Homo sapiens: one gene and its partners. The protein of the gene in region 7 purifies or fractionates together with the protein of the main gene of each other region. This does not show direct contact. Each region holds a gene or a part of one and is shown on either strand. Other genes may lie near its edges. The genes, in order: ZNF608, KANSL3, PHF20, YEATS2, KDM6A, ZNF609 and RERE.

Region 1 (3,500 bases), on a different chromosome or scaffold from region 7:
CCAGAGAAAGTGAATAAACATAAAGTAATGATATACATTGTGAAAAATATTAATTTTATAATATTAATAATTTAATTCCTTTAAATCATTTTCCTTCATAAAACTTAGGGAATAATTTAAAATATCAAAGAACAAACATTACCTTTAGCATTATGAAAATAAATGTCTCCATTTGCGACTTTATCTTTAAACATAATAAAACAAAGGGAGTCATGGTGAATTATTTTAGAAATGCCGTAAGGATAACCCAAGAAAATTTCAACTGTCTAAAAAACTAATCAGTTAATTACTAATCTATGTAACCCTTACAGAATGAGGTTCATGGAATTTAAGTTGCATGTGAAGCAACTTATATTGGCATAATAAACACATTCATTACAATGATATAAAACCCAAGGAGTTAAGTTTTTGGTCTAAAAATCCTGTACTTGCTTCCTCCCAACCATTAAGATATTTCTATCTACAACTAATTAAAAATGTAGAGGATATTTACCTTCTTTGTCCAGGAAACATTCCAGATGCAGATGCCTGGGCAGCCACCTGCTGAGAGGCAACAAGGGCAGCAGAGGTCAAGCCTAATGGGGAAAAAATGTAGAGTGTCTGTGATCTTTAGAAGGATAAGAGTAGATACAGGCCCAGTGGAGAAGGGCCGCAGACCTAGTAGCAGCATGGTGTCCTCTCCTAAACACACACATGAACTGTTTCATGCAGCAAGGACACAGTACAAACCATTTGGTCTATCTGCTATCTATCCTTTCTTGAATACTCTGCAGTTTTCTTAATAGCTATTCGAAGGAGATACAGCATTCCATCTCTCCGGCTCTGCATGGTGCTAAATGGTTTGCATGCATTCCCTGAATAGGAAGCTCAGGAGAAATAACAGATACCAGGTAACAACAGGAATCAAAAGTCACAGTGAATTACAGAAGCGGCATGCTATTTGCCTAGAATACAATACTTTCATAATAATTGTTATCACTTTAACATTTTCCCCAGTGACTGAACACAATGCATCCCATAAGATACACAGAATCAGTAAATCAAACTTAGAAATGCTCTTAACTTTCACCCTGCAAGACAAAGGTAGCAGTCAGAGACTGTAATAGCTCCAAATGGCATGATGTTGCCTAACAGAGAATTCTTTTAAATTCTATAGAAGACAGTCCTGGGGAAAAATAGAGTAAACAAATGCAAACCTAGGGAAGATTACTGTCTCCTTCTAGGTCTTTTATTTGGATATATTTTCTTTTCCCAGAGGTAACTTAAGACAGTACAATAACAATAATATTATCTTAAAAGAGACAATTGTTTTCTTCTCATATATACTTTATTTATATATAGATATAATGTGTTAGACTAGAAATAAAACCTCTTTCTCTTCCAAGTTCTTATTACACTCAATACAAATTGTTTAAGAAATAGGAAAGCTCTCTTTTAACACTACTAGATGACATCAACTAAAAAGACCTGAATAAATAAAAATGACCCCTTCACATTTGTATATCACTTCCCAGTTTTGGAAACACCTTCAAACATATTATCTTACTTTCTATTCACACAGTAGCATAAGAGGCAACTTGGCAAGTGCAATAGACTAAATTATGTCTCCTCAAAATATGTTGAAGCTCTAATCCACAATGTGATTAGATTTGGAGATGGGGCTTATAAGGAGGTAATTAAGGTTAAATCAGGTCATATGGGTGGGACCCTAATAGGGCATGATTAGTGTCCTTATAAGAAAGCACACGAGGGCTCCCCCCTGCCCCTTCCCCACCCACCAGCTCATGCACAAAGAAGAGGTCATATGAGCGCACAGCAAGACAGCAGCTGCACACAAGCCAGGAAGAGAGGCCTGAGCAGACGCTGGCTGTACTGGCACCCTGATCTTGAACTTCCAGCCTCCAGAACTGTGAGAAAATAAATTCCTGTTGTTTAAAGCCATGCAATCTGTGGTATTCTAGCAAGTTGTAAAGATGGTGCCACCACCCACCTACTATGAGATGACAAAGATGGGACAAATAATACATGCTCAACTAATGAACTACAAGGTGAAGATTCCCTCATATCAATCCTATGGCTTAAAACATGTTTCTCTTTCTCAATTCTCCCATTTAGTGAAGTCGCAGCAGTGAAGGGCTGTGAAGAACCCTCGAATGAGGTTATAAAAGTGTTAAACCTGATCACATTACTCCCATGATTTCCATGGGAAAAGAGCAACTTAAAAGGCATGCAGAAATCAGAACAAGTAATTTCACCAAAGCTTCCCACCATCCCTCCCTTTTTCTACAATTTTCCTGAAGTAGATATCTGATCTTCTGATTGTTATATTCAGTGCCCCAGACACTGGCCACCGCCCTCAGTCTGTGAGATAACAGTAAGCTGCCGATAACATCAACTGGTGACAATTATTAAGTGGTAGCCATTTCATGTCTCAATAGAATACAAAGATGTGGGAATAGCCTTAGCTGTGTCACTAGAAAATAAGTGTTAAAAACCCTCCTGAGAGCTAATGTGAACTCAAAGCTCAATATTTTTAAGATGTGAAATGCAATTTTAGCAACTGTTTTCCAAAGCAGAATGGACAAAGACACAGTAATGATAGAGCTGCTGACCTTGAAAAGGGTCATATTGACCCGGGATTAGCGGGTAACCCATGCCAACGTGGGTGTGGTGGTGCGTGTGCAGGTGCCGCTGGCCGAAGGGGGAGTGGCGATCCCTTTCCCTTTCTGCCTCCCGTTCCCGCTCAGCTGTAGCCTTTTCCACAGGCTGCAACAGAAAAGAGAAATTTTCCCCCTTCATGCTCTGAAAATCAACTTTTAAGAGTACTAAACCACCTTTGTCCCTTCGACAATATTGTGTTAATGATTAAAAAGTAAATATAAAGATACAATTCTTTAGTAACTAAAGAGAATTTCAAAAAACATGCATTAGTTTCAGTTGGAATTAAGCCAACACAAAAGAACTACTCCACCCAAAGTAAACCAAGTGACACCAATGTTTTCCTGAAATGACGGAAATAAGAGGATTTCTCTCTATATTCATTCATAATTGCAGGTTAAGAATTTACCCAATTGCTTCCCATAAACAACTTTTACAAAATAAGTAGTTTTGGAGATATCTTTAAGGTCAAGTTTTCTAATTACACTTGTATTTTGTGGAGAGAACATATCTCACAGTTTTAAACGTGTCTGTATACATTTTGTTCTACTGAAAAAACATGCTCTAAAGTTATATGCCAATATAAAGCACAAGAAATCACTGTCCTACACCCACATTTTGAATCTCTCAATTTTTGAACTCTCAAAGAGAAGGCCCCATCCTCCCAAACCATAGTTTGGGGTAAGGATGGTTCATTTCCTATGACTTTCTACCTTTACAGCCTAACCACCCTTTAACTAAAGTTATACTTCTCACTTAAAAGAAATCCTTGTACTAAGAAGGAGGACTCAGAAAAAGATTCAGAAATCCCCTTTTCTGGTTTCTCTATAGAGTTTCTGGTA
Region 2 (3,500 bases), on a different chromosome or scaffold from region 7:
ACCCCAGTGTCTCTTATGCTTTGCAGTTATATCTCTCCTTATAAATTAAGAAACTCAGCCAAGTGCAGTGGCTCACACCTATAATCCTAGCACTTTGGGAGGCAAAGGTGGGCAGACCACTTGAGCCAGGAGTTTGAGACCAGCCTAGGCAACATGGTGAAACCCAATCTCTACAAAAACTACAAAAATTAAGAAATGGTGACGTACTCCTGTAGTCCCAGCTACTTGGGAGGTTAAGGTTCCCACCCGGGAGAATCACCTGAGTCCTGGAGGTCAAGGCTTGTAGTGAGCTGAGATCGTGCCACTGCACTGCAGTCTGGGTGACAGAGTGAGACCCTGTCTCAAAAAAAAGAAAAAAGAAACAAACTGGTATTTATAGTATTATTAAGTCTCTAATGACTTTGATAAGTATGAATTGTCCACAAAAACCTCTTAATCATAACCATGGATAAACTGACAAAAAAAAAAAAAATCACACAGTTCTCCTATGTACTTTCTGAAATTGCAAAGGACAAGGTAGTAGAAAATACCACAAAGGGATACATAACCATACCAGGCCACCTTGTTCAGCCACCACTAACTGGTCTTAATCTCTTCTTACTGCCCTTAATTAAGGCAGAGGGTATGGTAGTTGAGAACACTGGGTTCTGGAGTCAGGCTGCTTGGTTTGAACAAAATCCTTCTCCATCACTTCCTAATTAAGGTTTCTTAAACACCCTGAGCTCAGTTTCTTCATCCTGTTGAGCAGAGATGAAGGGGGGATATACCTCCAAGAGTCATTGGGAGGATTAAGAGACAATGCATTTGAAGAGACATTGATACAATGTCTGGCACCTAGAAAGCACTCAACAAACGGTAGCTCCTTTTTGTTATTACCATCGTCGTTATTTTTTATTATTAACTGTAAAAATAGTGATAAATCCTTTTGCTGAATATACTGACTCTAGCAATATTCCAGTAGTTGATCTTCATTCGTAGCAGTTTTCTTCTTTATCTGAAGCTCAAAAGAGCTTTTTTTTCTTTTTTTGAGATGGTGTTTCACTCTTGGTGCCCAGACTGGAGTGCAATGGCACGATCTCGGCTCACCACAACCTCCGCCTCCCAGGTTCAAGTGATTCTCCTGCCTCAGCCTCCCGAGTAGCTGGGATTACAGGCATGCGCCACCACACCCAGCTAATTTTGTATTTTTAGCAGAGACAGAGTTTCTCCATGTTGGTCAGGCTGGTCTTGAACTCCCGACCTCAGGTGATCCACCCGCCTCAACCTCCCAAAGTACTGGGATTACAGGCGTGAGAAAAGAGCTTCTTAAGGCACTAAATTAATTCCAATGCAAGACCCCAACCAACTTCTTCACAAGCTTTTTCAACCAAGGTGCAGAACTGCTCCTCCCTCAACAGCTGCTGTTTTGATCACACAAGCACACCTGTTCAATCTCATTCCCAACTTCCAACCAGCTTCAGAAGTCATGTCAATCACCTCAAACTTTCTACCCCTCTTTCTCTCTATTATAAAATAAGGGTTCTCCAAAATTATGGAAAGTTACCACCTACCAACTCCTGATATAAGAAGTAACATTTCCTTATATATATAGTAGATATATGGATACACAGACAAAAAGCCATCAACAAAATATAAGTTGAAACCACAATGAGATGCCACTTTACACGCAGTAGAATGGTTATAATTTTTTTAAAAAAGAAGAAAATCAGTAAGTGTTGGCAAGGATATGGAGAAACTAGAACTCTCATACACTGCTGGTAGGAATGTAAAATGGTACAGCCACTTTGGAAAACAGTCTGGCAATTCCTCAAAGGTTAAATACAGAGTTATCATATGACCCAACAAGTCCACTCCCAGGTATATAACTAAGAGAATTAAAAACTTAGATCCACACAAAAACTTGTATGCAAATGTTCATAATAGCATTATTCACAATTGCCAAAAAATGAAAACAATCTAAATATCTATCAACTGATTAATGAATAAATAAAATGTGGGCTATCCATACAATGTAATGTCATTTGGCAATAAAAAGCATGAAGTGCTGATACACGCAACCACATGGATAAACCTTGAAAACATCATGCTGGGTGAAAGAAGCCAGTAGGAAAAGACCACATATTGCATGATTCCATTTATATGAAATGTCCAGAATAGGCAAATCTATAAAGACAAAAGTCAATTAGTGCTTCCTAGGGACCAGAGAAGCTGGGAGGAAACGGGAAGTAACTGTTTATGGGTAAGAGGTTTCTTTTTAGGATGATGAAAATGTTTATCAAATTGATAGTGGTGATGAATATACAACTCTGACTATACTAAAAACCAATGACTGTACATATTAAATAGCTGAATTGTATGGTATGTAAATAATATCCCCAAAAAGCTGTTATGTAATTAGGTAAATGTTTACCAAATGAACAGGGACAAATAACCAGGAGAGGAGTGCTGAGTCCCCTGGGGGCAGTAGAAAGCTTGGGAACAAAACTAGCCAGTATACTCGTGAAAATAGGCTTCAGTGTGCCCTCCATAGCCTGCAAATCTATTTTTAAAAGCCACTCAAACATCTGTTAGCTTTTCATGTGACTTCACAACTTCCATCATCCTAGTTATAAACCATTTAAACACAATATCTTACAAATGTACATTTCATTTTTTTGCAGTTTGGGTAACCCCTATATCATAACTTATACAACAGAAGCTACTACAGAGCTAGTCATATGTATCAAATTTAATTCACTTATTTATTCAACAAACATTATATGCCTACTGTGTGCCAGACAACGTCCTAGTGTGAAGTATGCAAAGATGGCTGAGATGTAAGCCCTACTCTCAAGGAGCTCACACACAGCATGGTGAACTGAGAGTTATAATGTGAGACTTTGGAGAACACTCTGACTTGTGTTGCTGCAAATGAAATAAGGTCCTAATAAGTGTTATTTCAATGAAGATGATACAAAATAATTACAGGGCAGTGATCATCCTCCTGATGAGCAGCCTACCTGTTGACATGCTCCTCCCAGTCCTCTGGTGGAGGAGGGGCATCTGCATCAGTCCTGGCAAAGATGACATGCCGTTCACACTCATTCATCACGCTGCGTGCCTTCTGATTGTCATAGAGTGGCATAGGCGTTGATGTGACCGTCTCCACATCTATTGGGACGTCTGATTCACTGTAAACAGGTGAGGAAATAGGACCGGGCCACACATACTTCACAGGTATTTAACAATCATCTGGTTGACAAAAAATGTATCTTTAATACAGTCAGCTTTAAATTACGCATAAGCACATTATATTCACAAGAAAATTTTGATCCAAAGTCATCTTTCCCACACTTGTCTAGATCTCTGCCCTCTCAGACATGATGGTATGTACTGGAAGAACACAAAGTCATTTTTTCAATGAGTCTATATAAAAAATGATAAACATCTATTTTTTTTTTAAGATAAATATGGGCCAGGTGCACTGGCTCACACCTGTAATACCACCACTTTGGGAAGCC
Region 3 (3,500 bases), on a different chromosome or scaffold from region 7:
ATAGCGCAATCTCGGCTCACTTCAACCTCCGCCTCCCAGGTTCCAGCACCTCTCCTGCTTCAGCCTCCCAAGTAGCTGAGATTACAGGCGTCCGCCACCACGCCCAGCTAATTTTTGTACTTTTAGTAGAGACGGGGTTTCACCCTGTTGGCCAGGCTGGTCTCGAACTCCTGACCTCAGGTGATCCACCTGCCTCGGCCTCCCAAAGTGCTGGGATTACAGACGTGAGCCACTGCACCCAGCTGATAGTGCACATATTTCTAAATGGTAACAGCAATGTTTGCAAATAACGGTTTCCAGTGCTCCAACATAGGGTTAATTCACCTTGACCCAGGAATTGGGAATGGAGCCCCTCAACATGGCTTTAAATTAGGGAAGCACAATGAGGTTATAAGAACTTGGGGAGTCTTCTCTGCTTCCCTAAGAACAAAAGTCACAATGAATGAAAGGAGATTACTTCCTTTACCAAAAATTTAAACAATAATCCCAATAATGGCCAGTTGGCAAAATTAGGGCAATTCAGTTTCTGCTTACATCGTTGAACAAGACATGAAATTGACTACCTTAAAAGTTACAGCTTCCACAGATGTGATTAAAACTCAAATGTATTTTCAGAAAAGAAAAATCAGTAATCTAATAATACAACAATCATCACGCCTCACAGGTGTGGCTACAGAAAGCCATCCTGTTTCTTCCCTTTTCAGACTGCATGACAGAACTCTTACAATGCAGCTGTCTGAACGTGCATGCCATGCACGCCTGTGCATTTCTTCCCACGCCAGAAACACCAACGTTAGCAGTGAGAAACAGCCTCTTGTAGAGGAATCGTCGTTTTGTTATAGATGTTATAGCCACGTGTATTCTCTCTGATGGACAGCTATAGCAGATCAGCTTATACTTGTCCTATAATTCATTATATATCAAATGGTGAGCAAATCACTAGACAGAACATTCCCTGAAATAGATTTTAGTACAGAGGCCTGAATTCATGTCCACAATGACCTGTGCTTAACTATTCCAAAGGTCGCTAAAGATACTGTTACTACTATTGAGATATTATTGGCTACTTCACGTTTACATAGTAAATGTTTGCAGCATATAACATTACAGACTCATAAACCCATAATTAACTTATAAGTGTTAATGGACAACTGTGCTTTGATTTTTGCCTTTAGTGATAAGAAAACAAAGTAGTGAAATGGGTCACTCCTCAAAGCATGGAACATTTTAACTTTGCCTAGTAAGGAAAAACAAAACAAAATATAGCAATTACATGTGGAACCGTAACCTGCAAAAGTAACACAAATATTGTCTCAAAAGGTACAAATAGGTTGTACCTGGACCTTAAGCAGCATGATCACCTTGCTCTCACAAAATAATACAAACAGGAAATGTAAAATGTTAAAGTATAGTAACAAAACAATTCTGAAAACGCTGACTACTAAACACCCTTCAGGAAGGAGAAAAGTCGCACATGTAGAATTTGAAGTTTGTTTACAACAATATAAAATAAGGTAATTCCCCAAACCACATTCTTTGTAACAAATCTTTACAGTGAAAGAGTTTGAAATTTTGGGAAACATTTTTGGACATTAAATAGAACGGGGAAGCTGTCAATATTAAGAAGTGGGTAGAAAATGCTGTCCTTTGGGTTCCAGACCCTGCCTGCTTCGGTTTGGAATTCCTCCTAGATTCTTATTACTGTGAGTGAGATTCTAGTTCTTCCATAGGCTGTATGGGCTCTGCTACAAAAGCCATAACCCAGCCAGCTCTGGGGTGAAGGCATACAAACTTGTCCCCAGTACCATGAAGTCATGCAAGAGATGTGGTGAGAAAAGTGAAGAGTCCTAAGGAGAAAGCAGGGCAGCCAAGACTCTGCTCTTTCCCAACCTCCACAGCATGGTGAGCTCACAATATTCCTATGAAGCTAGAAAAGGAAAATGATGCCTGCTGCCCAAACACCATGCCAGGAAGAAACCAGGGAGTTGGCATGTGCCCCAACGTGATAGAAAAGTCAATTAAATAAACTCCAAATTGAATTTACAACTGTCTCCAACTAAACTTTTTTGGCTCTCATTCCGTTTATCATCAGTGGCACAATTTCAAGTGAAGTTTGTGCAAAAAGACTCTCTTCATTCAACGATGTGCACAGAAGAGGGGAATCCCAAGAGTCTATTTGCTACCTTTATGGCAGGCTTCGAGATCAGAGTGTCCTCCCGCAGCCAAAATGGCCTCTTTGTCCAATGTCCACCACACTCCTGGCCCAGATCCCTGAAGTCAGTCGGTGTCACGTGCATTCAGCATGCTAGGTTTATTTATTTAAATATGCGAAGCTCCTCCTGCAGGTGCCCCAGGATTGTGCCCCCATGAGTTTTGGGTGCCCAGTTTCATGTTGAGCAGCAGAGGGCGATCTGCTGCACCTTGCCCAGGTCCATCAGCAGCTGCTTGATACAATGCTTGAGCTGCGGAAGCCTGGCCAGCGGCTCAGGGGGCTCCAGTTCCCCAGTGTAGTCCAGCCAGCTCTCCAACACTGTCGGCAGAAGAGAGAGATGAGACCTAGTGAACTCCCAACACTTGATTTGCAAGAACATCAGCAAGCATTTCAGCACCTTATTCCATCAGACATGGGGCAAGGGAGGAAGGGCCATTTCAGCCTCCATGGGGCAAGGGAGGAAGGGCCATTTCAGCCAGCACTGTGTCAACACCTGCTCTACAAAGTGGTACTCCCAGGACAAAACACAAATGCTTTAGAGCAGCACAGTCCAAAAGAACTTTCTGCGATGATCAATGGTCCAAGTCTGTGTCATCCAATACAGTAGCCACTAGCCTTATGCAGCTATTGAGCGCTGGAAACATGGCTAATGCAACTGAGGAACTGAATTTTAAATTTTATTCAGTTTTGGTTAAACAGCCACACATTGCCAGAGGCTACTGTTACCAGAGTCTAGAAGTCTTGGAAGGAAGCACCTTTCTGAGTGTTACCACTCACTCTTTAAAAAGCTTTCCCAGCCGGGCGCGGTGGCACATGCCTATAATCCCAGCACTTTGGGAGGTCGAGGCGGGCAGATCACAAGGTCAAGAGATCAAGACCATCCTGGCCAACATGGTGAAACCCCATCTCCACTAAAAATACAAAAATTAGCCAGGCATGGTGGTGCCCGTCTGTAGTCCCAGCTACTCAGGAAGCTGAGGCAGGAGAATTGCTTGAACCCGGGAGGCGGAGGTCGCAGTGAGCCGAGATCGTGCCACTGCACTCCAGCCTGGCGACAAAGCGAGACTCCATCTCAAAAAATAAAATAAATAAAATAATAAAATAAAATAAAATAAAATAAATAAAATAAAATAAAATAAAATAAAATAAAAAATAAAAAGCTTTCCCATGTTGAAAATCAGAGAGCCTGGTGTTTTAGCATCCTGTCAAGAAAAATGAAAATCTATAGGGTCTTGAAAAGGTCTATTTGTATATCATAAACTCTGATTTGCTTCATATTAATTCCTGA
Region 4 (3,500 bases), on a different chromosome or scaffold from region 7:
GCCACTGCTGATCTGACAGGAGGCGGAGCTCAGGCAGTAATGCTTCTTCGTCCATGCTCAACTTCTGCTGTGCGGCCCAGGGGTTGGGGACCCCTGATCTAAATGAAGTCAAACAGACACACTCGATTCCAATCCTATGCCAACCTATCCCCAAAAACAGACTTCCAGCTTCTATAAGTAGATGGATCTTCCCTCAGGTATCACCAGATAATTTTCAGACACCACTTCATTCATGGTTCATGTAGACAGCTTTCTCCCAACAGCCTCACCAGCCATCTCTCTCCAGAGTGATTCATCTCTGATTGCAAACGCTGAGGAGCAAACCCACTTCTAGTTAAATTATCGTATGTGTTAAATCCATCTGAGCAAATGCTACCATTACACCACCCAACAGAGTTACAGAAATGCTTCCTGAAACAGGTAAGAACTGCCCTCAGATGGACAAGATGAACACACATAGAGAACCAAGAACCAAATGATTCAACCCAATGGTTTCACTAACTAGCATTGTTCGTAGCTCGCAGGATGGCTCCTTGAGGGATCAGCAGCAGTTTTCCTTTTCCTGAAGGGTTCTTGCTGTTTGTAGTTAGGTAGAGTTTAGTGCCAGGAGGCAAATTTGCCAAGTTGGCCAAATTAGTGGCTGGTAGCTGCAACGTTGCCATTACTAAAATGGTAAAGGAGAAAAAATTGTAAGATAAATTGAAACTAAGGGCAACACTCTAAAATTAAAATACAAGGCAATAAATTCTTATTTTAGAACACTAACAAGCAATAAATTCAAAGTTTGTTTCCCAGATGCACAATGCTTTAAAGACTGATATTCTTAAATATCTTGCTAATTAAAAAATAATTTATAGACCAGAAGAGCCTGCCAGAGGCTCTTTATATCTGTATATAATAGGATGATCGTACGTCCTGGTTCTGCCCAGAACAGTTCTAGGTTACACCTGTCCCACTATAATTATTAATAATGACTCTTTTTACTCTCCAAAGTACTGTGGTTTGGACGATTAATGAAATAATCACCCTGTCTATGGAGGATTACATATTTTCCCCCATTTGTTTAAAGTCAAAGTTAGGGCAAATGTGTGCTCCTAACTGGCAAGTACCATTGGCCCTCTGTATCTGTGGATTTCACATCCATGGATGTAACCTACCTCAGATAAAAAATATCCATATATTTGGCAGACAAAAGGATGAGTACATCTGTACTGAACATGTACAGACTTTTTTCTTGTCATTATTCCTTAAACAACACAGTGTAACAACTATTTACATAGCATATACATTGTTATTACATTGTTATTTACATTGTTATTAGGTATTAAGATAACCTAGAGATGATATAAAGTAAAGTACATCAGAGGATGTACATAGGTTATACGTAAACAGTACAGCATTTTACACAGGGGACTGTGGATTAGCATCTGTGGATTTTGCTATCTGCAGCAGGGGGTCCTGGAACCAATCCCCCACAGTACTGAGAAATGATTTGTTCGTGTGTGTGTGTGTATGTGGGTGTGTGTGTGTGTGTGTGTAAATTTAAAGCTAAATACTCACAGACCTTTATGTAAAATGTCCCATAAAAAAGAACAAACATTTCAATACACTTCTTACAGCATCAACCTAACTAGGCTTTCCTAGACCAGATCAAATAGCAAATAAAATCACTAGCAAAGGAAATTTTGGACAGAGCTTCTGCTGAAAGGGCTCCCAGTGATGATCCGTTTTACCTGAACCCTGGGATCCACTCTTCTGAGGACCAGCGGCAGTAACCTGGGCCTTGGTTAAGGTCTGCACTGGCTGAGCAACAATGGTTCCTCCACCTCCACTCACAATTGCTTTGGCAACTCCTTGGGTTACAACTTGCTTTGGCCCAACTGCTTTGGAGACAGAAGAGCTGGCCTTGGCTACCAGGATCTGGCCACCACTGATCGCCACAGCCTGCTTCACTGTTGAAGGTAAAGCAGACCCAACTGGTACCCCGACAACCTGTTCAAAACAGAGCAGAGTCCAACGGTGCTTCGAGAGCTCTTAGAACAGCAGTCACCGTTTTGGCAGAGAGCAAAACAAAGGCCTGCACATAATACATGCAGCCTAATTCAGTCATCTAGGAAAGCTACCTACACAGGTGTGAACGGCAACTGTATTTCTTACACTTGGGTATTACAATAATAGAAGCTTAACAATTGTTGTCTTGCCTCAGCTACTTTTTATAATTTACTTTAATAGAAAATTTGGGAAATTCAGAAGTATAAAGAAAAAAGTTTGGCCGGGCGTGGTGGCTCATGCCTGTAATCCCAGCACTTTGGGAGGCCAAGGCAGGAGGAGCATTTGTGGTCAGGAGTTCGAGACCAGCCTGGCCAACATGGTGAAATCCAATCTCTACTAAAAATACAAAAATTAGCTGGGCATGGTGGCACACACCTGTAGTCCCAGCTACTCTGGAGGCTGAGGTAGGAGAATCCCCTGAACCTAGGATGTGGAGGTTGCAGTGAGCCAAGATCATGCCACTGCACTCCAGCCTGGGTGACAGAGTGAGACTCTGTCTAAAAAAAAAAAAAAAAAAAAAAAAAAATTAGCCAGTACAGTGGCACACATCTGTAGTCCCAGCTATTCAGGAGGCTGAGGCAGGGGAGGATCCCTTGAGCCTAGGAGTTCAAGGCTGCACTGAGCCGTGATCACACCACTGCCCTCCAGCCTGGGTGACAGAGCAAGACCCTAAGAAAAGAAAAAAAAAAAAAAAAAAAAAAGGCAAGAATAATATTTAACTATTAAAAAAAAAAAAGACCCCAGTACCCAAATAATGAAAATTAGAAGTATCTAGTTCCAAAAGTAAAATGAATTCTTTTAAGAAAATACTCAGGAGTGTTTTTAAAACAAAGTCAACAGTAGGATGTTAAATTAAACACTGAATGAATGGCAAACTGGAGCAGTGTTTCCCACTCCCAGCACCTTATTTCATAAAAAGAACTTCTCACCAGAAACTAGATGAACAGACTTCCACAAGGTTGGAAGAAATGCAAATGATCTACCTTCTTAAGGCAAAAAAGACAAAATAGGAAGTGCTGTTCACCCATCAGATTGGGGGAAAAAGAGTTTAAAACCAAGAAGTTACTAGAGGCTGTGGGGAAAATAGGAATTTGTGCTCACTGTTGGTAGGAAGATAAATTTGGACAGCCATTCCAGAGAGGCACTGGCCCATCTGCTAAAACTGAAAATTCACATACCCCCGTATAGTAGGAATTGTTTTTAGGAATATATCCTAGAGAAACATACATGCGTTCAAGGGAACATATACAACAATGCCCAACATAGCATTATTTTTACCAAAAACTGTTAGCAACCTTAATGTCTGCAGCATGCAACAACATTCTTAACGTCTACAGATAGAGGAATGGACAAACTGTGGCATAAAACAGACAACGAAAGGTCATACTAAAAATAAATGAACTAGAATTATATATATTAGTGATATATTAGTGTAAACAGACTGGAAA
Region 5 (3,046 bases), on a different chromosome or scaffold from region 7:
TACTTTTCTCAACTTTAAATGTTTTAATATTGTCTTCATCAGGCCTGCTGAGCATTGTCATTTTAAAATCTGAGAATATTTGATAAATTGATGAAAGAAAAATTATGAAGTCATAGACATTAGAATCAAGTCTCTTGGCATTATTTCTAGTTGGTATATCTTTTATGCTAAAAATATTCAATATTCAGTTGCTGGTCACAAATAATTTCTCCCCCACAATAGGTATTGTCTTCTAAGAACTCTGAAGCAATGTCAGACATTGAGGGAAGCTCTCATTGCTGCAGGAAAAGAGATTATATGGCATGGGCGGACAAAAGAAGAACCAGCTCATTACTGTAGCATTTGTGAAGTAAGTAATTGTTTTTATCCACAGTTGTTTTATAAAGCCTCTTCCCTCTCCACTGTTGGTTTCTCTTTATTTTTAAAAAACTTTTTTATACTTTTATGTAATCCAGTTTATAGTAATTAACATTGGATTCAATTTTGTTGCTTAGCCATTATATTAAAATTCAGTGTGATAATAATGATATTTCACTGTGAATTAACCTTAAAAGTATCTACTGCAGAGTCATTTTTGTGGTAGATCTTCAACAGACAATAATCAGCAAATTTAGTCTGAGATTTTAAACTAAGAACAATCTAGATGTACACAGATGCCAATAAACTGGATGTTTGGTGTAACTCTAGGCAGATCGATTATCAGTCCTCTCTGGTGCAATTAACAATACATTTGTCAATCTTGTGTGGCCAAGGCTTGCAAGAGGTGCAGGAACAAAGATGTGGTGCCTCCTATGAAGGAGCTTAAATTCTACTTGGAGCAGACAGATTATAAACAACTAATTGTAATGTACATGAGACTATGATGAATGTGAAGTTGGACTTCCTGTTAATGATAACACTGAGGGGGAAAATGACCTAATTTTTTCTTCTAGTATTGGCATAAGAACTCACAAACGTATTAGCATTTGAGTCCATCCTTGGAAAAAAGAGTATGATATCAAGTAGACTAAAAAAGTGATGAGAATCGGAGGTAGACTGTCATGGGCTATAGGCACAAGAAGAGAACAGGGAAATGAAATGGTTTTAGAAAAGGTTGAATGTGTTCCGATTTGGCTGGAACACAGACTGTGCAAATTCCGCTCATAAGTCTAGGTGGCATTTAATTTATAGCACATCTTGAATGGTTTTAAGGAATTTGATATTCCAAGGTTATTGAAGCCATTAAAAGGTTTTGAGCAGGCAACTAAGGGTAAGTAAGATATGTGTTTCAGGGAGAAAAGTGGTTGGAAAGGACAGCGATATATAAGCTATTGCAGTGGTCTTAAGAGTTATGGGACTGTAAACTAGTTCAACCATTGTGGAAGTCAGTGTGGCGATTCCTCAGGGATCTAGAACTAGAAATACCATTTGACCCAGCCATCCCATTACTGGGTATATACCCAAATGACTATAAATCATGCTGCTATAAAGACACATGCACACGTATGTTTATTGCAGCATTATTCACAATAGCAAAGACTTGGAACCAACCCAAATGTCCAACAATGATAGACTGGATTAAGAAAATGTGGCACATATACACCATGGAATACTATGCAGCCATAAAAAATGATGAGTTCATGTCCTTTGTAGGGACATGGATGAAATTGGAAACCATCATTCTCAGTAAACTATCGCAAGAACAAAAAACCAAACACCGCACATTCTCACTCATAGGTGGGAATTGAACAGTGAGATCACATGGACACAGGAAGGGGAACATCACACTCTGGGGACTGTTGTGGGATGGGGGGAGGGGGGAGGGATAGCACTGGGAGATATACCTAATGCTAGATGATGAGTTAGTGGGTGCAGCGCACCACCATGGCACATGTATACATATGTAACTAACCTGCACAATGTGCACATGTACCCTAAAACTTAAAGTATAATTTAAAAAAATAATAATAATAATAAATAAATAAATAAATAAATAAATAAATAAAGTACCTGTAAAAAAAAAAAAGTTATTTTAAGGCCTAGACTAGAACCTGGCAATGGGAATATTAAAGAAGGGAAAGAATTCAAAAATATTTAGAGGGTAAAATCAGCGAGACACCTCATTAAATGGCAGAAGTGGAAGGACAAGTTGAAGAATGCTCACCAATTTTCTAGCTCAGGTCACTAGGTTTGTATTGCTGCTTGTTGACAGTAATGGATAACATGGTGAACTCTAGGATTGTAGTTAACTGTTAAAAGAAGACATGGGATCATAAGAGTTTTCTGTCATTGAAGAAATTTAAGGATAAGCCAAAGACAGGATGTTGATGGTCCATTTCAAACCTTGAAATTCTGTAATTCTAGCATCAACCTTTATTTGAAATGATAGAATCCATTGATTTTTTTTTTAAATGTCATATGGCCTGACCAAAGTGAGTCATTAGGAGATCAGATAGATTCCAGTTAGGTGTGTTGTTCCTTATCCTACCTGAACCCTAGCAACTCATCAATCTTTCTGTATAAGATAGAGGTATTATTTCTAAAATCATGCTGTACTCATGAATACATAAAAATGATCACTTATGTCTGATTGTATACTAATGTTTTAGATTTAAAAATAGGTTGACCTTTATCAAACTTTTGAACTGGGCTTTGCCAGTGGTTGTCATGAGTATGTCATTCCCTTTGATTATTCCCCTAAATATGCATTACTACCCATGTCTTTGGATTTGGTGCAAAATAAACCTGGTCTGTTAAAGATTCTCAAACACAGCCATGTTTTTCTTACCACCTACTCTTAACCAGAGATCACTGTCCACAATTTCATTCAAGTAGAATTCCATGATTATACTAAAGCAGTACAGTAAATACCACTATCTCTATTGAATACGTTTTTCTCTTGTATAAAACAGGTGGAGGTTTTTGATCTGCTTTTTGTCACTAATGAGAGTAATTCACGAAAGACCTACATAGTACATTGCCAAGATTGTGCACGAAAAACAAGCGGAAACTTGGAAAACTTTGTGGTGCTAGAACAGTACAAAATGGAGGACCTGATGCAAGTCTA
Region 6 (3,500 bases), on a different chromosome or scaffold from region 7:
ATAGAGACCAGAGTCCCTCTGTGTTGCCCAGGCTGGAATGCAATGATGCAGTCATAGCTCACTGCAATTTCCAACTCCTAGGCTCAAGCAGTCCTCCTGCCTCAGCCTCCCAATTAACCAGGACTACAGATGCATGCCACCACACCCAGATGATGTTTTAATTTTTTGTAGAGAGGGGTCTCACTATGTTGCCCAGGCTGGTCTTGAACTCCTGGCCTCAAGCAATCCTCGCGCCTCAGCCTCCCAAAGCACAGGGATTCATATTAATGTTTTTTAAAAAGCACTTTTATATCCATAGCAGGTGTTTTTTCCATTTGACAGGAAAGGCCCAGACAAGTTAGCTTAATTTGTCTGGGGTTACTTGAGACCTCACTAGCAGAGCCAGGATTAGAACCCAGGTATCTCGATTCCTTGTCCGTGTTTCCTCCACTGTTTGGTTCCTATGAAATGAGTTATTGATGGTCTCTCTATTTTTTAGAGTAGGTCCAAAGTATACTCAGTTACTGAGTTTCTTTAACAAGGATTTTATAGGTTGAGTTAGAACTAGGAACTTGGAATCTCATATCTTGCTCTGCTCATGAGACTTAGAATGTCTTCCCTTCCCTCTTGGTATAATAGTTATGCTTCCCTCCCTCCTCTGATCTGAGTGTCACTTATAAGCTTTCCAGTCCCTGAGCGTGCTCTGAAAAAGTGAAACAATCTAAACATATTGGAAGGGGCAGCCTCTCCTATTTCAGTCGTTTTCCCAGAATGCTTGTTCTTACCTAGAAAACATCCACTGATGCATGGATGGATTTTCCTTTTCTCCCCCTGCCCCATCTTGTTCCCTGTGGGTGGGTGCAGAGGTGGGGGCGGGGGCTTTTTAACCAAAAGGGAGCAGAGTTGGATTATAAACAAGATCAGTAGAGGCCAAAATCCTACTCTGCCCCAGGTGTCTAGTACTAATTATCTGCTCTGGTGGTTCTACTGGGACCTTGGGCTTGAAGTATATCTGTCTTATCTGTACAACACCCAGTCGTTGTTCTGTGATTGTTGTAGGAGGCAGAGCCCCGGATGTGGACATATGTTTATCCTGCCAAGTACTCAGACATCAAGTCAGAGGATGAGCGGTGGAAGGAGGAGCGGGACCGCAAATTGAAGGAGGAAAGGAGTCGGAGTAAGGACTCTGTCCCCAAGGAAGATGGGAAGGAAAGCACAAGTAGTGACTGCAAGCTGCCCACGTCAGAGGAGTCTCGCCTTGGGAGCAAGGAGCCCCGGCCAAGTGTCCATGTGCCTGTGTCCTCCCCACTTACCCAGCACCAGTCCTACATCCCCTACATGCACGGCTATTCCTACAGTCAGTCCTACGACCCCAACCACCCCAGCTACCGGAGCATGCCTGCTGTGATGATGCAGAACTACCCAGGTACAGCACCAAGTGCCAGCACTATTCCATTCACTGGAAGGGGGAATGAAGCACAGATTTCACATCCAGAGTTTTCTTGCTCAGCCCCAAGGCATATTGAGGCTCGCTTAGATGACGGACCTTTTTTCACTGAGTCATTCTGTGAGGTGGCCACCATAACCCATAGTTCCTTGAATGACCCATAATGATAGTCTGTGTGACTACCTCTCTCTCCCTTGCTCCAGCTCAAGGATTGTCTCTGTAGTCAGTTTTCATTGCTAACTAAAGGTAAAACTCCTTCTCTGTCACTGCTGTCTCCCCTCAGCTGGAATTTGTAAACCATATACTCCACGTTTTGCAGTGTGCTAGGCACTGTGGGAGGTACAAAAGAAGTAGAGCCATTGAGTTCCTTCCACTCCCGGAGCTTACAGCTTAATCATAGTGGAGAGACACAAAGAACAAATAAAATGCAAACCATAACAATGCATGGATTCAGTTGCCAGATCATGTTCACCTGTCAAGTAAGAAGAGCCATCTGAAGTCAGACTGGGGGGAGGTCCTGCTAGATTCAGCTTGGAAAAGACAAGCTCTTTATAGTGTTTAAATGTTTTTTGTTTGTTTGTTTTTTGAGACGGAATTTCACTCTTGTTGCACAGGCTAGAGTGCAGTGGCGTGATCTCGGCTCACCACAGCCTCCACCTCCTGGGTTCAAACGATTCTCCTGCCTCAGCTTCCCAAGTAGCTAGGATTACAGGCATGTGCCACCACTCCTGGCTAATTTTGTATTTTTAGTAGAGACGGTGTTCTTCCGTGTTGGTCAGGCTGGTCTTGAACTCCCGACCTCAGGTGATCCGGCTGCCTTGGCCTCCCAAAGTGCTGAGATACAGGCATGAGCCACCGCTCCGGCCTTAAATGTTTTTTAACTTGTTAGAAGAAAATGCTCTTATTTAACTCTACTCGTTTTGTTGCCCAAAGAACCATGTGGGGTGCTTCTGGGGTGGAAGGGCACTGCTTTAGCCTCACTCCTTAGAGCCTCCAGCTTCCTACAGCAGCCTAAATAGTCTCAACATTCTGGTGACATTATTATAAAGCACACTCTAAATAGAAATAAGCTTTTCAAACAGAAATAGGAAATTTCTTACCCTTGAGGTGTTCCTTTATCCCTGTCACTCACACCCATCAATATAAAAATCATAGTTGCATTTGTTGAGTGCTCGCCCTGAGCCAGGCGCTGTCCTCTGAGATTTATAGACATTATCTTTTTTAATCCTCCCTATCACCTTAAGTAATAAGTATTGATATCTTCATTTTTGATGATGAAGAAACTGAAGCTCAAAACAGTTATTTATTTGCTCAAGGTTACCAAGCTAGTAAGTCTCAGAGTAAGGTTTTGAGCCCAAGGCTCTGACTCCAGATAAGTGTGATCTTTCCACTTTATCATATCACTTCTCCAAGATGAATCTGAGACCAGTTCAAAGAACAGTATCAGATCTATGGAAGTTGGAAGCAGGAAACAGGGCCATGTTCCTAATATCCCTTAGCTAATTTTTCCTGTAGAGCTCAGTAAAGAAAGGTCAAGCCAACAGTCTCAGCCAAAGACACTATGTTAGAAAATACCTCAGCCTGTGCCTAGGAAAGCTGATGCCCACCCAATCAAGCTCACTAAAGCAGAGTTTCCTCTACCTCTCCCATCTCTTTGACTGTTTGATTTCTCCTTCCACAGGTTCCTACCTGCCTTCCAGCTACTCTTTTTCCCCATATGGCAGCAAGGTCTCAGGTGGTGAAGATGCTGACAAGGCACGAGCCAGCCCCAGTGTGACTTGTAAATCCAGCTCAGAGTCCAAAGCCCTGGACATCTTGCAGCAGCATGCCAGTCACTACAAGAGCAAGTCTCCCACGGTAAGAAAAGTACAGTGATGCTGGCTGTTACCCAAAGACTAGTAAGGCCAGATCCAGGGTCTGGGAGAAGGTGGGCAAGTTCAGGTCCTGACCACAGTGCAGCTTGGCTGACTTGACACTGGCAGCCCCCAGGGCATCTTCTTTATTCTTAGGTATCTTGCACTTTTAGGGGTCATAAGGTGGCACCCTGGGCATCTCACTTGTGTGTGTGTGTGTG
Region 7 (3,500 bases):
AAAATACAACAAAAATTAGCTGGGTGTGGTGGCGGGCGCCTGTAGTCCCGGCTACTCAGGAGTCTGAGGCAGGAGAATGGCGTGAACCCAGGAGACGGAGCTTGTAGTGAGCCGAGATTGTGCCACTGCACTTCAGCCTGGGCGACAGAGCGAGAGACTCCGTCTCAAAAAAAAAAAAAAAAGAAGAAGAAAAGAAAAAAAAGTCTCAGGATATCGCATAGAGCACTATATTCTAAAGATATTTTCTGGCTACTTCTACAAACTCCCAGAACTTCCTTCAAGAATAAAAATAATATTTAACTCAAACGAAAGTGAGAGCTTCAGAGCAAGATTTTTCCACCTTCAGTTACATTTTACACATCTTTTCATCCTACCATTTTCAGTTATGTTCCAAGGAAAATGATCTCTCTAAAGATGTATTACTGGCCAGGCGTGGTGGCTCACACCTGTAATCACAGCACTTTGGGAGGCCAAGGCAGGGGGATCACGTGAGGTCAGAAGTTCGAGACCAGCCTGGCCAACGTGGTGAAACTCTGTCTCTACTAAACACACAAAAAGTAGCTGGGCACAGTGGCACACGCCTATAGTCCCAGCTACTTGGGAGGCTGAGGCAGGAGAATCGCTTGAACCTAGGAGGCAGAGGTTACAGTGAGCCGAGATCACACCACTGCACTCCAGTCTGGGCAAAAGACTCCATCTCAATAAAGAAAAGAAAATGTATTGTCTCTGCCTTAACAAAACATAACAGCTTCCAGAAACAAGCTTCCATCTTTCGGGAATATTAAGTGGTTTTTACAGTCTTCCAGATTTCTACTATAAATGGTATCCCTAATAAAGTACTCCCCAAAAAGAAACCCAACAAGAAAAGTCTTGAGGTTTTTAAGCGTCTGCAATGGGAAAAGTGAATCCCAAACTCCAAGCTAACACAGTTCTTACAGATATTTTATAGCAGGAAAAAATTTTGTCTTTCTAAGTCAGTTTTGGAATAGACCTAACAATAAATTTATAAATAAATAATTTATCTTTTGTTTTTCTTATGATCTTCCCCAATACCCTATCTCACTTATTCAACAAATCTTTACTAAATACTATGTGCCAAGTGTTAGAACTAAAACCACAATGGAGGAGAAAACTCATGGTCCTTGTTCTCAATGCTCAAATGCAACAAAAGGAGGCAACCGATCAATCTAAGAAGCTTCTGTTTCTCATGCAACTAGGGTGAGAAAGGAAACAGTGCATATAAACAAACAAAAGATTGGTCCTCTTTACTTGACAACCACAAACAAATCAGTTTGCAGTTACATGCTTCAGATGCAGAGAAAATTCTCTTTGGTCAGCCAGGCATGGTGGCTCATACCTGTAATCCCAGCACTTTGGGAGGCCGAGGTGGGCAGATCACGAGGTCAGGAGGTCGAGACCATCCTGGCTAACACGGTGAAACCCCATCTCTACTAAAAATACAAAAAATTAGCCGAGCGTGGTGGTGGACACCTGTAGTCCCAGCTACTCGGGAGGCTGAGTTAGGAGAACCGCTTGAACCCAGGTGGCAGAGGTTGCAGTGAGCTGAGATCGTGCCACTGCACTCCAGCCTGGGCAACGAGAGAGACTCCATCTCAAAAAAAAAAAAGAAAGAAAGAAAGAAAGAAAAAAGAAAATTCTCTTTGGTCATGCTAAAACCATAACAATTACCATATATTCTCTGCAGCGCTCTTAGGTCAAACCTCTTACCAGAAAAGACCTCCTCATAAGCATCTCAAATATCCTTAGACATTCAGCAAAATAGAAAGTATTTAGTCTTTGGAAGATAGGTGATGAAGGAGCAATCATGCATCATAAGCTACATTAGAAGAAGGAACGCATGTAGCACAAAACTAGATTACTTCCTTCTATGTAAGAAACATGCTGTTTCAAACAGGATTTCCATTTTCTAAACATATTTCAAGAAAAGGAAAAATTATCACTGCCTACAAAAGTTTTGCCCAGATGAACCGTCTGCTAAACAGATAGTCATAAACTCCCAAGTCCTGGTAGGCTACTAGTGCTAGCAACTGAAAATACAGAGACCTACTACTTCCTCGACAAGTCTTAAGTTTAGAGCATGAACGAGCCAATCATGAAAGAAAGAAAACTATCAGGCCAGGGGCGGTGGCTCATGCCTGTCATCCCAGCACTTTGGGAGGCTGAAGCGGGCGGATCACCTGAGGTCAGGCGTTCGAAGCCATCCTGGCCAAGATGGCGAAACCCTGTCTCTACTAAAAATACAAAAATTAGCTGGGTGCAGTGATGGGTGCCTGTAATCCCACCTACTCGGGAGGCTGAGGCAGGAGAATCGTATGAACCCAGGAAGCGGAGGTTGCAATGAGCCAAGATTGTGCCATGGCACTCCAGCCTGGGAGACAAAGCGAGACTCCGTCTCAAAATAAAAAACAAACAAAAAACGATCAGCTAACACCATTGTTAAAATGTTCCTCTTTGACCCTGAAAACTCATCAGTGTCTACTAGGAGTCCAAAAAGAATGAAAAGCTTGGGCTGAAAACCTCTCCACTGCAACTGCAGTTTCAGACAGAAACACTTCTGATAACTTTAAGAAAAAAAATCATTCTCCCTGGGGTTAACAAGATAACTGCTCCAGAAAACTGTGTAGAAAACATTTTTTCAGCACTCAAAGAGAAAAAATAGTAAGTCCAAATTGTACATTCAACACTACTCACTACAAAATCATACACTGTTTCTATTTACAAAGAAAATAGAGTTGTTTCTGCCAAAAGTGAGCAAGAAAGTTAAAAATTCAAGAAACAATAAAGATGTCTATAAAACAAAATCCAGTATATGTGTATATTTATAAAATCAATGTTCTGATTTATCTGAAAGTTGGCTCTATTTATATATTACATAATCTGCATGTTATATTAATATATTAAATTATATGAATAATTAATACCATATCATTTATATATTAATGACATATTTATATAACCAACTTTCAGATAAGTATGAACATTAATAATCTAAGCAAAAGTCAATCCAATTACCATTTACATTTGGCTCTAAAATACAGCTCAATGGGAATATATTTTTTTCCTCTATGTTTAGCATATGAATTATAATTCTTCTGCGCCTTAGTGTACAGTGATCAACACATACCAATGATGTGACAGATAAAGAAAGGGACCCAGAGAGGAACCAGATGGCACTGAGAAGGAGAGTTGTCACTTCAATTTGCTAGAAATGATCTACAAAGTAGACGATACAACAACAGCATCTTTATTATAGCACCATGAGGTTTACAGAGCAAGTCCCTCATTTGATTCTTCCAACTCATGAAGTGAACTGGACAGAAGTTGTCATCCTCGCTTTACAGTCTACAGAACTCAGAAGAGATCATCTGCACAAGGCCACGCAGCCAATGGGCACGAAGTAGGATTCCAGTGCAGCTGTCTCAGAGCTCAACCCTATCTGGCTTGCACAGGAACTCCTGCTGCCTGTGCTGCCAGGATCT

Evidence for each region.
Region 1: the proteins of RERE (region 7) and ZNF608 purify together in Homo sapiens (affinity purification with mass spectrometry, with the first as the bait; one large-scale study listed by BioGRID). This does not show direct contact.
Region 2: the proteins of RERE (region 7) and KANSL3 purify together in Homo sapiens (affinity purification with mass spectrometry, with the first as the bait; one large-scale study listed by BioGRID). This does not show direct contact.
Region 3: the proteins of RERE (region 7) and PHF20 purify together in Homo sapiens (affinity purification with mass spectrometry, with the first as the bait; one large-scale study listed by BioGRID). This does not show direct contact.
Region 4: the proteins of RERE (region 7) and YEATS2 purify together in Homo sapiens (affinity purification with mass spectrometry, with the first as the bait; one large-scale study listed by BioGRID). This does not show direct contact.
Region 5: the proteins of RERE (region 7) and KDM6A purify together in Homo sapiens (affinity purification with mass spectrometry, with the first as the bait; one large-scale study listed by BioGRID). This does not show direct contact.
Region 6: the proteins of RERE (region 7) and ZNF609 purify together in Homo sapiens (affinity purification with mass spectrometry, with the first as the bait; one large-scale study listed by BioGRID). This does not show direct contact.

The regions. Positions count from the first base shown.
Region 1 is NC_000005.10:124,638,640-124,642,139, forward strand, and holds part of ZNF608 (zinc finger protein 608), read right to left. Parts: intron 2,767-3,500; coding exon 2,613-2,766; intron 576-2,612; coding exon 494-575; exon of another isoform or gene 489-493; intron 185-488; coding exon of another isoform or gene 181-184; exon of another isoform or gene 143-180; intron 1-142. UniProt on the Homo sapiens protein: Transcription factor, which represses ZNF609 transcription.
Region 2 is NC_000002.12:96,628,313-96,631,812, forward strand, and holds part of KANSL3 (KAT8 regulatory NSL complex subunit 3), read right to left. Parts: intron 3,232-3,500; exon of another isoform or gene 3,171-3,231; coding exon 3,000-3,170; intron 1-2,999. UniProt on the Homo sapiens protein: Non-catalytic component of the NSL histone acetyltransferase complex, a multiprotein complex that mediates histone H4 acetylation at 'Lys-5'- and 'Lys-8' (H4K5ac and H4K8ac) at transcription start sites and promotes transcription initiation.
Region 3 is NC_000020.11:35,946,515-35,950,014, reverse strand, and holds part of PHF20 (PHD finger protein 20), read right to left. Parts: intron 2,531-3,500; coding exon 2,388-2,530; 3' UTR 1-2,387. UniProt on the Homo sapiens protein: Methyllysine-binding protein, component of the MOF histone acetyltransferase protein complex.
Region 4 is NC_000003.12:183,770,797-183,774,296, reverse strand, and holds part of YEATS2 (YEATS domain-containing protein 2), read right to left. Parts: intron 1,993-3,500; coding exon 1,734-1,992; intron 665-1,733; coding exon 503-664; intron 1-502. UniProt on the Homo sapiens protein: Chromatin reader component of the ATAC complex, a complex with histone acetyltransferase activity on histones H3 and H4. YEATS2 specifically recognizes and binds histone H3 crotonylated at 'Lys-27' (H3K27cr).
Region 5 is NC_000023.11:45,107,188-45,110,233, forward strand, and holds part of KDM6A (lysine-specific demethylase 6A), read left to right. Parts: intron 1-222; coding exon 223-349; intron 350-2,891; coding exon 2,892-3,046. UniProt on the Homo sapiens protein: Histone demethylase that specifically demethylates 'Lys-27' of histone H3, thereby playing a central role in histone code. Demethylates trimethylated and dimethylated but not monomethylated H3 'Lys-27'.
Region 6 is NC_000015.10:64,677,078-64,680,577, forward strand, and holds part of ZNF609 (zinc finger protein 609), read left to right. Parts: intron 1-1,038; coding exon 1,039-1,405; intron 1,406-3,107; coding exon 3,108-3,283; intron 3,284-3,500. UniProt on the Homo sapiens protein: Transcription factor, which activates RAG1, and possibly RAG2, transcription. Through the regulation of RAG1/2 expression, may regulate thymocyte maturation.
Region 7 is NC_000001.11:8,657,141-8,660,640, forward strand, and holds part of RERE (arginine-glutamic acid dipeptide repeats protein), read right to left. Parts: intron 1-3,500. UniProt on the Homo sapiens protein: Plays a role as a transcriptional repressor during development. May play a role in the control of cell survival. Overexpression of RERE recruits BAX to the nucleus particularly to POD and triggers caspase-3 activation, leading to cell death.